Homo sapiens: one gene and its partners. The protein of the gene in region 2 purifies or fractionates together with the protein of the main gene of each other region. This does not show direct contact. Each region holds a gene or a part of one and is shown on either strand. Other genes may lie near its edges.

What was found. Proteins that work in one complex are often made in the same cells at the same time.
Region 1: the proteins of TWIST2 (region 2) and MEF2C purify together in Homo sapiens (affinity purification with western blotting, with the first as the bait; one study listed by BioGRID). This does not show direct contact.
Region 3: the proteins of TWIST2 (region 2) and ETS2 purify together in Homo sapiens (affinity purification with western blotting; one study listed by BioGRID and IntAct). This does not show direct contact.
Region 4: the proteins of TWIST2 (region 2) and NACC2 purify together in Homo sapiens (affinity purification with mass spectrometry; one large-scale study listed by BioGRID and IntAct). This does not show direct contact.

Annotation. Positions count from the first base shown.
Region 1 is NC_000005.10:88,716,358-88,719,208, forward strand, and holds the end of MEF2C (myocyte-specific enhancer factor 2C), read right to left. Parts: 3' UTR 760-2,851; downstream 1-759. UniProt on the Homo sapiens protein: Transcription activator which binds specifically to the MEF2 element present in the regulatory regions of many muscle-specific genes. Controls cardiac morphogenesis and myogenesis, and is also involved in vascular development.
Region 2 is NC_000002.12:238,846,492-238,850,706, forward strand, and holds the start of TWIST2 (twist-related protein 2), read left to right. Parts: upstream 1-1,593; 5' UTR 1,594-1,724; coding exon 1,725-2,207; 3' UTR 2,208-2,242; exon of another isoform or gene 2,243-3,606; intron 3,607-4,215. UniProt on the Homo sapiens protein: Binds to the E-box consensus sequence 5'-CANNTG-3' as a heterodimer and inhibits transcriptional activation by MYOD1, MYOG, MEF2A and MEF2C. Also represses expression of pro-inflammatory cytokines such as TNFA and IL1B.
Region 3 is NC_000021.9:38,819,405-38,823,187, reverse strand, and holds part of ETS2 (protein C-ets-2), read right to left. Parts: intron 3,686-3,783; coding exon 3,422-3,685; intron 1,603-3,421; coding exon 1,484-1,602; intron 515-1,483; coding exon 299-514; 3' UTR 1-298. UniProt on the Homo sapiens protein: Transcription factor activating transcription. Binds specifically the DNA GGAA/T core motif (Ets-binding site or EBS) in gene promoters and stimulates transcription.
Region 4 is NC_000009.12:136,011,531-136,015,313, forward strand, and holds part of NACC2 (nucleus accumbens-associated protein 2), read right to left. Parts: intron 3,237-3,783; exon of another isoform or gene 2,983-3,236; intron 2,440-2,982; coding exon 2,334-2,439; intron 1,767-2,333; coding exon 1,669-1,766; intron 495-1,668; coding exon 1-494.

The DNA.
Region 1 (2,851 bases), on a different chromosome or scaffold from region 2:
CTGTTCTGAATAGGGTTCCCTTGCCAAATTCAGTATCTCTATTTAATCCAGACTTTCAAACATAATTGAAAGAAAAAAAAAACACCCACACATCCAAATCAGGCCAGCATTAACTGAATCCTGAGTTTAAGTCCTTATTTACAACTTTCTCATATTCTAACTCAACATACTGAAAACTGAAGTGACTACCTTCCTCACAAAGCAGTGACCTCTCAATTTCCAGTTTGGACATTACTAGGATCCTAATCATTTAAGCCTAAAACTGTAAACTTTAACAATTCCTTATCTATCACCACTCCTACCATTAATCTAACCATTTACTGAATTCTGACAATTTTCTCTCTCCTAAATCTTTCAATTACTTGCTTAAACCTAACTCTTTTAAATTTGCGATTATATAATCAGAGGCAAACTAACTCTTCCAGTCTTGTCTCACTGCTCCCCTACACACGGCTACACTTTACGTAAATAGAAAGGCCCACAATTCCTGTAAGTTTGTCTCTTGCTTTCCCATCTCTGTACCTTTGTATCTACTATTTCTTCCCTGTGAAATGCCCACATCCAGGGATGGTGTCATGATTCCAGGGCCCAGTGCAGAATGAAAATGTGGAAGTCCTTGTTGAAAAAGTGAAATAAAAGGTTCTCTCTGTTAAAGGTACTAAAATATAAAACAGTTCACTTTTTCCTGTGTATCTCTTCTGTTCAGGCACATGCTCTATTGTCCTACAGGACTTTGCTTACAACATTCAAACTCAAATATAAAATTATTAAGGATAATTTTATTATCAGGATATTATCAGGATAATGATAGCAGAACACTAAACGAAACACAAGCTAGGGCCATATGTGACTGCAGGGGTCACATGCCCACAAACAGCTTTGAACTCATCCCCTTCTGGGCCTTTCTCAATCCTGCCCACCTTCAAAATCAAGTGAAAGGCTTCTGCTGGGTGGATGAGGAAGTGTCCATGCTCTGAGCCTCTGGTCTGCTCTGCCCCAGGATGGCCAAAGTGGCTCCCTCATAGCACTTTGTAGACTTCCCTGAGAATGCCTTTTATCTCCTATTAGTTTATAAGTTTCCTAAGAGAAAGGGCTACAACTTCATTCATCCTGGAATCACCACATGAGTTACATATAATAATTGCTTAATACATGTTTGCTGAAAATGAATACAAGAGAACAAAGCAGAAAGCACTGCTATTTTGAAGCCACATGCAACATTTCCTCGAACTGCATTCTTTTTGGAGCAGATATCACTACTAATGCAAAAGTCCAAGTTCTCCAGCTGGCTAACTGGTGGTGTCTTGTTTTCCTTTTCAGTTTTTAAATTAATCTTTCTATCAATCTTTTTAAGGACATTCCCCTTTAGAGATTATTATTGAATGTTAATAATGGATATATTTGATAGTCTCTAAAATGTATGAATTCACTAATTTATTCAGATTTATAAGCCTATGTTTTCAACTTTTAGAAATTACTTCGAAGAAGAAAAAAGGAACTCTTTTGGAAACACTTTCTACAGATTTTAGTTAAAAAATAACTTATGGTACTGCTTTTCACAGTGGCTTTTGAAAAATTCTGTACATTTAAACAGGTTATCAAAGATCTTCATGGAACTTCTTTGATAAAGAAGTTGAACCATTCAATAAGAACCTTAGACTTCCACCACTGGCTGAATTCTGTAATACCCTAAGAACCGTCATCCAATTCACACCCCTCCCACACAGACACACATATCCATCTTTTCATATAATATTTTGAGTTGAAAACTGAGAAAGCTCATTTGTGCTTGTGGCATAAGCTGCTTTTTAAAAAACACAATAAAATTGAATAAATTTAAACAGCAAAACATTAATTTAAAAAAATGCACCACGGACACTGCATCACTAAGAAAGCCAGTAACTTTACTGAATTGTCTGCAAAATACAAATTATACCTTATTTCCAGCAGGAGAAACTTTTGAAAATTTCCCACTTTTATTCACTACAGACAGCTGAATTAAGTCCCTTGAGATACACAGATGTGGTTTAACTTAGTTATAACATCTTGTCATCTAGTGGCGACAAAGTCCAGCTTATGCCGCTGTGAGCCTCTATTTGAATATTTGTTGCAAATGCTTGTATGCCCTCATTTACAAGCGATTTTAATTACTCTCATTTAATGGAAACAAGTCCCCAGGAAAAGAAAAAGAAGAAAAATGATACAGCAAACCATCTGAAGCAATCCAAGTCCTATGCCTACAGTGACCCAGGTCTACTTTGCTCGAAGAGAACACTGGTACTGCATTCAAACCACAACAGAATCCGTCACTTAACTGACCTCTCTGAATTAAACTGAGGTATGAATCAATTTGAGGTATGAACAGGGAAGGCAAAATGCAATACCAGATTATGAAAATAACCAAAATGGAAAAATTTGATGTAGAAGATATGTGGCTTGGATTGCTCCACATCTTTGGTTAAAACATATTAAGAAAAGCCTTTAATTACATCTGTAGTCTGAAGCATTCTAACAGACACCAGTATTCCAGCAATCTTCAAAAGATCTGTAGTGGCAGGAAATTAACGCCATAAAAGTGACGACATCACGGCAGATGGCACAAATGAGAACAGATGAAGTATGCCATGCTTAGGCAACAGCCTTTATTGAGGGTTCAAGTGGCTTCTTCTTCTTTAAAAAAAATGTTTTTTAAAGAAAGAACTACAAAGCGTTTACTCTCTGGAGAAACAAACAACAAAATAAAGAGGGCAAAAAATGCTATCTCTAAGTTAAAAGATGGGTATGTAAGAAAAACAAATCCATAAAAGTGTGTGAGGGCAGACATTCTTTTAAAAAGTGTCTTGGAATTTTG
Region 2 (4,215 bases):
AGGCCGGGTGGGGCTGGGTGCGGTGGCTCTGCAGAACCTTTAGGCACCGAACTGAAGCCGCGGGTCCGGTGCGCGGACACTGCGCAGGGCGCTGCTACCGACTCACATGCATGCGAGGGCCCGCTCCTAGGCGTTCTGCCTTCCTGGACGGATTGTTGGTAAAACGTCCCCTAGAACGGCCGGAGCCAGGGCCCTCGGACAGGGGCGCGAAGGGCCCGCTCTTTGCCGTCCTCGGGTTTCCCAACGCGGTGGTCGTGGCCCGCGGGCCCCACCTCGCGGCCCGCCTGGCCGGCCGGAGGAGCAGCGGAGGCCGAGCACTCCCCGGTCTCGGGTTCAACTTCAATAAAAGGGCCCAGCCCGCCCTTGATCACGCGGCTTGCCTGACAGCCCGGCTCAGGCCCGGGCCTAATTGAGCCCGGGTCACCTGGGAATAGGTTCAAAGGCATCAAAGCCGTAAAAACCACCTCCAGGCCCAGAGCCAGAGCGGCCTGGCGAACAAAGAGCCCCCCAACCACTTCAAACGCGCTCGCGCTCGCCGTCCAGATGGCCCGGGGCCGGGGTCCGTGGTGTCGCTCACCGAGGCCGGGCCCCACACTCCAGCCACCCTGAGCCTCCTGCTCGGAGCTGCCCGCGGGCTGCCAGCGCAGCGGAGGCTGGGCCCGGGGCAGCCTCGTGCAGCTCCCGGAGCGCCCTCCGTCCTCTGCTGACCCGCGAAGCGAAGGCGGAGCGCAGAGGCTGGGGCCGTACAAGGCGGGCCGGCAGGCGCCCCAACCCGCGCCCAGCAACCCGGGTAGGGCCAGGCAGGCGGGCGCGGCGGGTACCGGGCGCTCCCGCAGAGGCTCGCTGTGGCGTTGTTTTAAAGCTGTTAGAAGGAAGGTTCGGGAAGGGCGTCGGGGCCGGGGCTCCCCAGCAAGCCAGGGTAAGAAATGGTCCCCGACACGCACGCTGGCCGAAGGGTGGCATCTCCACGGATCTTGGCGGCATGTCCTTGGGCACGGGCGTCTCCAGGGGGCCCCGACTGTCCTTACACTGGCGGTCCGGACACCGAGACCCCTGCCCGCGCAGCTCCCCAGACCCCAGGCCTAAGCTTGCGGGCCGCGGTGCAGACTAGCTGTGCGCCCGGGGGCGGCCAAGACCCACACAGGTCGAGGAGGCTCCTGGCTGCGTCCTCATCTTCTGGGAGCGCATCTGGGACTGGACTCGCCTCTCTAGCCCCTCACGCCCAGAGAGAGAACCCCCCAAAGCCCAGTGGGGGCCGATCTCTACGTTGAGGCGTAGACAAAGCCAGGCTTGGCCGGGCCTAGGGCTCGGGGCGGCCTGAGAGTGCCCTGCGTTCGGGGTGGGGGCGCGGGCGGCGGGCGAGGACCCGGCCCCCGGGATGCCCTCCGCGCCGGGGCCGAAGGGGGAGGCAAAACTGAAAGTGCCGCGCCGGGGGGCGGGGGCGGCCGGCGAAGGCCCCAGAACTTGTCCTGCCCCCGGCCACCGCGGCCAATCAGCGCGCCGCCCTAGCTCCTGACAACTATTTAGCAACCCAGCCCAGCTAGAGTTTCCAAAAAAGTTAGAATAACTTCCTCTCCCGGAGACCTCGGTTTTGCACAAGCCGGCCTTGAAATCAGAGCCTTTCCAGCAACTCCGAGAGCGTGTGCTCGGCGACCGCGGGCTTGGCCAGCGGCGCGCGCTCGGCGCCCCGGCGCCCCCAGCCCCACGCGCGCCGGGCGGGCGCCATGGAGGAGGGCTCCAGCTCGCCCGTGTCCCCCGTGGACAGCCTGGGCACCAGCGAGGAGGAGCTCGAGAGGCAGCCCAAGCGCTTCGGCCGGAAGCGGCGCTACAGCAAGAAGTCGAGCGAAGATGGCAGCCCGACCCCGGGCAAGCGCGGCAAGAAGGGCAGCCCCAGCGCGCAGTCCTTCGAGGAGCTGCAGAGCCAGCGCATCCTGGCCAACGTGCGCGAGCGCCAGCGCACCCAGTCGCTCAACGAGGCCTTCGCGGCGCTGCGCAAGATCATCCCCACGCTGCCCTCTGACAAGCTGAGCAAGATCCAGACGCTCAAGCTGGCCGCCAGGTACATAGACTTCCTCTACCAGGTCCTGCAGAGCGACGAGATGGACAATAAGATGACCAGCTGCAGCTACGTGGCCCACGAGCGCCTCAGCTACGCCTTCTCCGTGTGGCGCATGGAGGGCGCGTGGTCCATGTCCGCCTCCCACTAGCGCCGCGCCACCCACCTCCGGACCGGCGCGCCAGGGTAGGTGCTGCGCGCGCGACGGGCGCCCTCCGCTGCGGGGGGCGGGCGGCAGGGGCGCAGGGGCATTGGGGCCTGCTCGTGTCTCCTCGGCGAGGCCCCGCGGGCCGCGGGGGCTTGGATGCCGTGCGCTTTTCCTCTTAGCAAGGAAGGCGGGCGGGCGGGACGCTCACAGTCCCAGGGACACCCCTGAGTGCAGACTTCCACGCGAGGGTGTCAGTTGGGAACCGGCGGACCGGTGACTCCCCCGGCGGGTTCTGAAGATACTTAGACAGATGGTCGCAGTTTTCATTCTCGGTGGTGTGTGGGTGTCCGTGGTTGGCGGTGGAAGGAGCGAGCATCAGAAAAACCTCCTGGGGCCGGCTGGGGACTGGGATATGAGGACCAGCTGCCCTTTGCGTCCGCCGCAGCGCAGGCCGCCCGCGAAGCTGCCCGAGCCGGGTGTTGCCGGGCGAATGGCTTCGCTTTCTTCCTGGGCAAGGGTAGAGCGCGTCCGTCGGGCGGACACTCAGATCTACCCAGCTGCTCGCGCCTGGGGTCCCCGGCCGTCGGCGCCCTGGCCTGCCCAGTGGGCGTAGAGGTGCGGGCCTGCGGCTCCAGGGTTTGCCTGGGGAGGACGGGAGGAAACTGCCCTGCGCTTCGGGGCCAGAGCAGCCACAGGGCCGGGTGTGCCCGAGAAGGGCCCTGGGCCGAGAGCGCAGAGCCTGGAGCGCTGAGGCAGGCGGGTCCGACGCAGCCGCGCGGAGCCCCAGGGCGCCCGCAGGCAGGTGGAGCTGACCTAGGAACTGGGAGCCCTGAGTCCCAACCTTGACCCTGGAGTACCCGGGAGGGGCCCCGCCCATCCAGCCCCGCAGGGATGGGCGAGGGGTCCAGGCTGGGAAACGGGTCTGGGGGACAGGGAGGCTGTGCGCGCCGGGCCCTGCGCGAGGAGAAGGCTCGGGGGACACAGCTGCCAGGAGCACTCCAAGTTCTGGTTTCCTCTGGAAGAGCGATTAGGGCGTCCTGCACCGGGTCCTTTTCACCAGACACCTTCCAAGTCCCTTTAGACAAGCTCGAGCCACGGAGGCGCCGTCCTTAGGCTCTGTGAGCAGGCGAGCCCCTCTCTCATCCGCCATCCAGGGCCATGGAGGGGCACAGAGTTCTTTTTGCTGGGGCCGAGTTAAAAATCCTTCCCCCTTAGTATGTTTTAGTTCCTCGCACATCTTGCGATGTTTTTATAAAAGACTCTACTTCACACAGAAGGAATTTAGATTAATCAAGAGCACCCGGCCGCCTATTCTCCCAAACATATCTATTTCTTTTTTTATGTGGTTCTATAATATCTGCGAATGTTGTTGCTGAGGCCACGAAAAGCTGATCCAGCACAGGTGGGTTTTATTTCATTTTTTTAGCTTTTATTTTGGTGTCACTGAAAATTCTGTAGCTGCAGAGCCTCCTGAGATAATGATAATTGTATAGTTTTTAAAAAATAATTTTCAGCAGAAAATAACTTGTGGGAATCTTCTCCTGTCTTTGTCAAAAACAGATGGAAAGTGTCTCAATCACATATTTCTCTAGGAAAGTTTGGATTGGCTGAGTACTAAACGCTACAGTGGGGTAATACATTAATTCTGGTTTTTGCTGCCTAAATAATGAGCTTCCATTAGTTACTTCCATTTATGCTTTACCTCATTCATGGTTTATAGCACATCTGAAATAAGAACAAACAGATGAGGAATGTCATCTTTTTAAAAACACACACATTGAGCCGTGTTTAAGGAAAATGTCACTTTAATTATCGTTAAGACTGCCCTCCAGAAAATTACTGAAAACAAATACCAGTAGATATGATGCTGCTAGAATTTAGTAGGAACATTTAAAATTCATTTAAAAATAATCGCACTCCTCAAAACTTAGAGAATCAGCCATAGGTAACCATTAAAGATTATAGAAAAATAAAATGCAATACATGTAATAAATAAATAAAAACAGTGCCA
Region 3 (3,783 bases), on a different chromosome or scaffold from region 2:
AACAGCCAGAACCATCCCGTCCCACGGACTGCCAGGCGCCAGGACGGCTTCCTGGTGCCTCTTTCTCGACCATTTTCACTTAAAAGCACTGTGAGTAGAATTAGCTGTGCCGTTGCTGCCACAAGGGAGGCAGCCTGGTCAAGAGGCGTGGTTTGGGATGCAATAAGGCCACTGCTTCTTGGCCACTTTCCTGGACATTTTCAATCCTGCCTTTCCTGGGTCCTCGGAGCAGCTGGTCAGGATGGGCTTCCCACTCAGTCCACGAGCCTGGGGCCGGCTCAGGGTGGTCCCGGCGACCTCAGTCCTCCGTGTCGGGCTGGACGCCCAGGATGGCGTGCAGTTCCTCGGGCGTGAACCCCAGCAAGTTCTGGAGGTCGCACACGAAGCGGTACACGTAGCGCTTCCCCGACGTCTTGTGGATGATGTTCTTGTCGTAATAGTAGCGTAAGCCCCGGCTCAGCTTCTCGTAGTTCATCTTGGGCTTATTTTTCCTCTTTCCCCACCGGCGGGCCACCTTTGGTGAACATGGATGGAAAAGAGTTAAACTCAATTTGTCAATGAAGAAAAAGTGAATGACATTCCTCCCTGATTATGATTCTGAGGCATGTTCACTCTAGAGAGAACTTGACACCTACACAAGGTCCGCAGGAGGACCTTTTGAGTACCTCTGAGTACCTTTGAGTACCTATGGTAGGGGCACTGTGTCCCCAAGGGGCAGAACCACTGGGGAATGAGGTCCCTGCTCCCTGGCCCCAGCTCAGTGAAACCTCCTGGGAGCCAAGGGTTCAGAGCCAGGAGGGTCCTGAGACCAGGGAAAGGTGGTGTCACCCACCCTCCAGGCTGGATATTCCAACTACTGAAGTTAACAGGTGCCGAGTGGGATTCTGAGCTGTGTGATATACTCATTCCTCAATGCTTGTCTCCCAAGGGAACTGGAGGCGGGGTGGGAATGGTGACAGATTACGCTCCCCAGTGCCAGAGACCAAGGGCTTCTCTCTAACGCTTTTCTGGCGGGGTTGGTATCCCACCTGCCCTTGGCCTTCTCCTTTAGACAGGGCTCCTGGTTCTAACTCTGCAGGGCTGGGGTCAACACTGCTGGGCTCAGCTAAGGAGTGGACAGAAGGCTGGCTCGGGGCCACATGAGGCTTGTTCCCCCGATGGACAAGGGCAGCCTTCCTAAGGCATTTTCAGATGGTCAGCAGAGAACCTCAGTTTGCAGCTTGGGCCTCTTGATCAGACAACTGATCAAGACAGTGAAATCTGTGCAACGCCCTTGTATGAAGCATACCCAGAAAACACTGTACACGTTTATCAACAAAGCAATGACTCCACTTCCATTTTCCCAACAGCCAAGGATGCCTCACGTGGAAAGATTCTCAGCAGTACTGGTGAACCCTTTTTTGTGCCCAAAGAACTGAGTTTTTGAATGCAAGCAGGAAATCAGGTTTTCAAGCCCAGAGATTTCCCAGGGCTCTGGCCATACCTCATCGGGGTCGGCGAGCTTAAACTCCCATCCGTCTCCAGTCCAGCTGATGAATGACTGGCAGGATTTGTCTGATAGCAGCTCCAGGAGAAACTGCCACAGCTGAATAGGTCCACTTCCTGCGGGGAGAGGGAGGGAGACGGATCATACCCTTTCACAGATGTAAAATACAGCAAGTCTTTAACCATCCTAATTGTACATGCTGATTTAGGAATGCAGACCCAACTCTCTGAATGGGGTTCCGATGTTACACTCAGGGTGGCACTCAAGGTGTTGGTGACAGTACTAAGTGCTTTAACGGGATGGGGCGGGGCACCAAATGTGAGTTCCTGCTCCACACTGCCTACTCCTAGAAAATAAGGTCACTAGGCGAGACACTCTTCCCCTTGATTGCTAGGTTTGTTCTTTCTGGAAGAAAGTTTAGGGCCACCAACTCTTGGCATTAAAATTCCCCATCTGGTTTAATTGTTCCTTATGTAAAAACCTTCAAGGTTTTTTTCTAGAAACACCCAGTGGGGCAGAGATGGGGGTGGCTGAGGGGGTGTTTCATCACAGAATGAGGCGTGTCATACGTGGGATCCCATGCCACCTTCCTGCCAAATGACCATGTGTAAATTGCTTAATGTGAGCCCGGTTTACTCAATAGCCACGCGGGGTCACACCCGTTGCCTCACAGCCTCTGTCTGGTGAAGCATGCTTTGCCAAGAGCTTCTCGTCCACCTGTCCTCGATTGACATTTAGAACTACCACCTTGCAAAGCAGGTGTCAGTGTGGTTCTGTTCTAAAGAGGAGGGATAAGATGCGGCTCAGAGGCCAGGTGCCTTGTCCTGGATCACACGCCCATCACAGCAAACAGGAGAAGAGCCTAGATCTTCCGACCCTAAGCCCAACCTCTTTCTACCAAATAGCTCTTCCTCAGAAACGCAATGGCCGTTATCAATAAAGCTTTGCTGTAAAGCACGGGACAGGCATTCTAGAACCAGAGCTGTGTGAGCACCGATAGCTGTCTGCCTGTGAGCCAATTTCCCCATCTGTAAAATGGCCTCATACCACCCCCATGCCAGGCTGTCCTACAGACTGTATGCCTACTTAACTACAGAGTTGGCAGTCAATAAACAGAAACTTATGTTACTATTAAAATGAACCACACTAACGTTATGGCTGTTTATTCTTCTCAGGCCCTAAACTCCCAATAATGAAACCGATAATGGCTTTCACACACTCTTTCCGTGTATTTTAATACGTTTACGTGGCTGATTGTTCTTAGATGACAGAAAAAGAATGAATGCCTCAGTATCCTTATTTTAAACTTATCAGATTTTTTTAAGTTAGGTAATTTCAATCCACAGTGGCTCCATATGGTTAAAAAAACAAAAACAAAAACGCATTTAAGGATACACGAAGCAGTGAAAACAAAGCCCCAGTATTTTCGCTAAAGTACTGGAAATACCTGTTTCTAAAAACAGCTTTATATTTGTCCACTGCCTAGAATAGCTCTCACCCAAACCTCAAAAATAAGAGCAGATAGATTTTAGAAGCAAGAAAAGGTAAACAGTGCCCATATTATTTGAGACTGGCTCTGCTGCCCCTCCCTAAGCCAGTTTACATTCTTTGAGATTCTTGGAGTGGGTGAGTCAGGGCTGAAGACTGCACAGGCCATGTCCCCTGCTCCAACTATTCCTCAGAACGTCCCAGGTGGAGGGAGTGGCCTGTCAATTTTCACTCATTCCATGGAGCTCTGTGTACATGAAAATTCCTCCAAGTGTGGCTTTTGTCGAATTCAGAGATACAGCAAGCCACGCATAAAACATGGAGTGTAGAGCACTGGTGTACCTAGCTTAGAAACACCCTCGGTGAATGTGGTACTGTGGCTCGAAAGGAAGCAAGGGACAGGACCCAGGAGACTGGGCGGCCAGGCTCTCGGAGTTCCACACACACCTGTGAAGCCGGCCAGCACAGCTGCAGGTATAACTGGTTTGCCTTGCTCCACTGGGTCACTCCTCTCTTGGATGTAATCCTTGAAAGACATGGTTGGCTTATTGAGGCAGAGAGACTGGCTGCAGTCATCTTCGAAGCTCTCGAAGGAAGGAACCCGTTGCACATCCAGCAAGGACGACTGGCTGTTCCAGGACTGGAGGAGGGAGTCTGAGCTCTCGAAGCTGTCCGCACCGTTCTCAGGGGAGTCGTGGTCTTTGGGAGTCCCTGGCAAAGACAACCAAACACATACTTTGATTCCTCCAGGACACAGTTGGTCTTGGGCACGACCATAGCATCACCAACCACTACCAGTGCAATCATGC
Region 4 (3,783 bases), on a different chromosome or scaffold from region 2:
ATAGGTGCCCTCCGGCCTCCGGGCCGCGGCCGCCGGCGTCTGGGGCCTGCTGGGGCCGCCCCCGCCCTGCTCAAAGGGCTGTGGGGGGCTCTGGCCATCGGCGGGCAGCGGCTCGGGGGCGGCCACCTCCTGGATGACCGAGCCAGCCCCGTCCACCTCCTCGCCGGCGTCGAAGGCGGGGTTGGCGGCGGCACTCAGGTCAACATTCACGGCGTCAGTTCTCAGAGCCACGATGGTGGCGGCGTCGCCCCGCCGCTCGGCGTAGATGCGTTGCTCGAACACCTGTGCCGCGGCAGGCGGGAACTCGGGGTCGAGGGGCACGCTGGCGGCGGCGGAGCCCATGACCGTGCGGTACATCTCCACGCCCTCCGGCAGCATGGACTTGATCTTGGGCAGCCAGCGCTTGCGAACGCGGCGGGCGTTGGTGCACATGTCCGCGGCGATCACGTTCATCTCGCTCTCCTTGAAGCTGGGGGCGAAGTTCTGACAGTACACTGTGAGGACGGGGCGGCGTGAGCTCAGCCACCTGCCTGCCGGGAGGCCCGCCCCTCCCCAAGGCCACAGAACCATGATGCCCTGGATGAGCCTCCCCGGCCGCTCCTGGGGCCCATGTGACCACCTGGGGCTCTCCTGGCCTCAGCCAGAAGACCAGAGGTCACGTTTCTCACTGCTCGGCCTGGGAGGCCTCCCCACCCCATTCCTCTGGAACAGTCTCTGGCCTGGTCAGGCCCAGCAGCCTTGGCCGTCCGCCAGCTGTGAGGCTCAGGCCTGTTTTTAATCTCTCCGGGCTTCCGTAGCCCCAACGGCTAACGGGAACTGGTCAGAGGGTCCCCCTTTCGGGAATAACACACCCCTCCCCGTCCCAGTCCCAGCCTGGAGGAGGGGAGTGACAGAAGCCATCACTTCAGCAACACTCGCCTCCTTTCTCTGGCAGGAGCCCAGGCCAAGGCCGGGTCATTCCTCCCAACGGCATCAAACCCAGAGGCAGGTCCCAGGGGCCACGTCCACCTCGGTCCCTCCCAGAATCTTCCCAGAGCCTCGGCTGCCACCCCACACTTGGGGACTGTAATTCCTGGCTGCAAAGGCCCCTTTTTGCTCTAAAACAGAATTTGCCTCACAAGGTTTTTTTTTTTTTTTTTTTTTCTTTTTTTTAGGAAGAAAACAAGATAGTGCTTCTTGGGCCGAGGGCCACAGGAGGCTGTGCTCTTGGCCACCTGGTGCGAGCCGGCAGCAGTCAGCATCTTCCACATCTGGGGCGCGGGCCGGGGGCGGCGGTCTGCCCTGGAGATGGACCGGGCTCCGCCCCCACACGCCCAAGAGCGGGAGGCAGAAGCCGGCCGAACAGATGGCAAAGGCTCAAAATAACCGCAAAATGTAAATAAGGGGTTTTGTTCAAAAAGGAAAATTAGATCTATTTCACATATTAAAATAGTTTCGCAGCTGAATTCATCACACTTGGAAACCTACCAAGAACGTTAACACCTCGAGACCTGGCTTCTGAGAGCTGCTCTTTTCTCCTCATCTTCCCCTCAATCAGACCATGCTCGGCCCCCAGGGACGGAAGCTGCAGGTGGCCGGGAGCACCCCCGCGGCCCACCCAGTCCTCCTCAGGCTGGGATCTGAACCCAGCCCCGGCCCCACCCACCCGAGAGACCCCCAGGCTCTTACATTTCACAGCGTTCAGGACCCGGCTGTCCAGCGGCTTCCGGCTGGGGTCGCTGGTGGACGAGCGGATGCCAGTCCCGCAGCTGTTGGCCAGCGTGTTCCTGGTGGAGGGACCGGAAAGGCAGGCAGGGTGAGGATGATGGGGAGGGTACCTGGAGGCGACCCGCCCGCACGAATGCCCTGCTGGGAGGCCACTTGGCCTCACCCTTGGCTGGTCTGCGTGTGTCCCAGTGGCAGGAGCCGGCCCAGCCACCCTCTAAGGGACAGGACAAAGGAAAAGCGTCTGGGCTGAGAAGATGACCGGGTGATGGGGCTGCAAGGTGACCTGAGCCTTGTCCTCAGGGACTCCGGGGACGTCTGAGGAAGCCGCTGTGTCCTCGGGAAGGGTTCTGTTGGCCCATCAGCACAACAGAATAAGTGTGGCTCTTCATTTTTCTGTTGTGGGGGTTGCATCCACAAGCCCGTTTGAGAAAGGCCACGAAAGACAGCCCCTCCCTCCCTCCCTGGGAGCCTCTCCACCGTCCTGGGGCCGACCGGCCACGGCTGAAGTCAGGAATGCGAGAGGGCTTTCAATGCCACAACCCTGGACGATCAGACAGCTCATAGCTAAAGGAGCCAGAACCCTCCGCAGCTCCATTGTGCCCTCCAGCACTCCTGCCCCGACCTACCTGTCAAAGAAGGTGGCCAGGAGCCTCCGCAGCAAGACCTTATGCTTCACCCCTGCACACAGGTGGCAGTTCATCAGCTGGCCGCGTGTGATGTAGACCCCAGAGCCTGCAGCCACCAAACAGAAAAAGGGCTCGTGGCCTTCCCGGGCCATAGGGTCCGAAGAGGCGCACAGATGGGTGAGGGGGAGGGGGGGAGGTGGAGGGGGAGGAGGAGCTGGAAGCTTCTAGGACTTTTTTTGGGGAGGAGCAATTTGAGGTCCCACCTGCTGGTCACCAGGAGAGGCCATGGCCAAGGCCAGCCCCAGCAGGTCCCAAATCACACATGGAACTAAGCAGGGGGTGGGGAAAGCCACAGCGCCCCCCACCCTCCCCAACGAGCCCCAAACTCCAAGCTCTCCCGGCCATGCTGCGGTCCCCGGCCTCAGCTCCCTCCCCAAGAACACACTTTGTTGTTGTTTAGAGACGGGGTCTTGCTCTGTTGCCCAGGCTGGAGAGCAGTGGTGCCATCATGGCTCACTGTAGCCTCGACCTCCCGGGCTCCAGTGATCCTCCCACCTCAGCCCCCTGAGTAGCCGGGACCACAGGCGCCACCACCATGCCCAGTTAATTTTGATGAAGTCTCCCTATGTTGCCCAGACTGGTCTTGAACACCTGGCCTCAAGCAATCTTCCCACTTCGGCCTCCCAAAGTGCTGGGATTACAGGAGGAGGGGCACTGCACCTGGCCTAGGGAACACACTCTGAAGGGCTGGCTGTGGCCCTGGGTTTGGGAAACACTCATGTCTTTGCCTTTCTGCTCCGTCCCAGATACCAGAGAGCCCTCAGGCAACGATGAGGGAGACGGAATCCCCTGGCTGGAGGGTATGGCTGGAGCTTTGCAGGGCCCAGTGCTGACCTCCTCTGGGTATGTGTGAAGAGGAAAACCAGCTAGGGCAGAGGCGTGGCCAGAGAGGTCCACGCTGTGCTGTTTACCCTCGGAAACTTGACCACACCCCAGGTGTCCCACCAGGGTCTGGGTGAGCGAGGGCATGGACAAGCAGCAGGACTGAACCCTCTGGGAACAATGGGGAGGGAATGCTTTCTGGGGGCAGCCAGTCTCAATGACCATGAGATGTCATGTCCTGAAGGACACGATGTCCAGGTGCGCCTGCTTCCAGGAGCCTGTGAGTGCCCATGACCTCTTCCTGCCATGGCCCGTCTCCTGCCCCACCACTCCCACAGGCCCTTCCTGCCAGGGTCTGGGCTGGAGGAACTCTCCTGAGGAGCTCATAAACTGAAGCACGTCTCCAATCCCATCAGCCCCACACCCCAAACAGAGGCCACAGCTGCTGGAGGCTGGGATGACCGAGAGCATCTTCCTGGGACCACACCTATGTGAAGCACCAGGGCCCGCGTGGGCACCTGCGCCCCAGAGCCCAACCCCAGGGGCCCACCCAGCCGCCCCGGCAGCC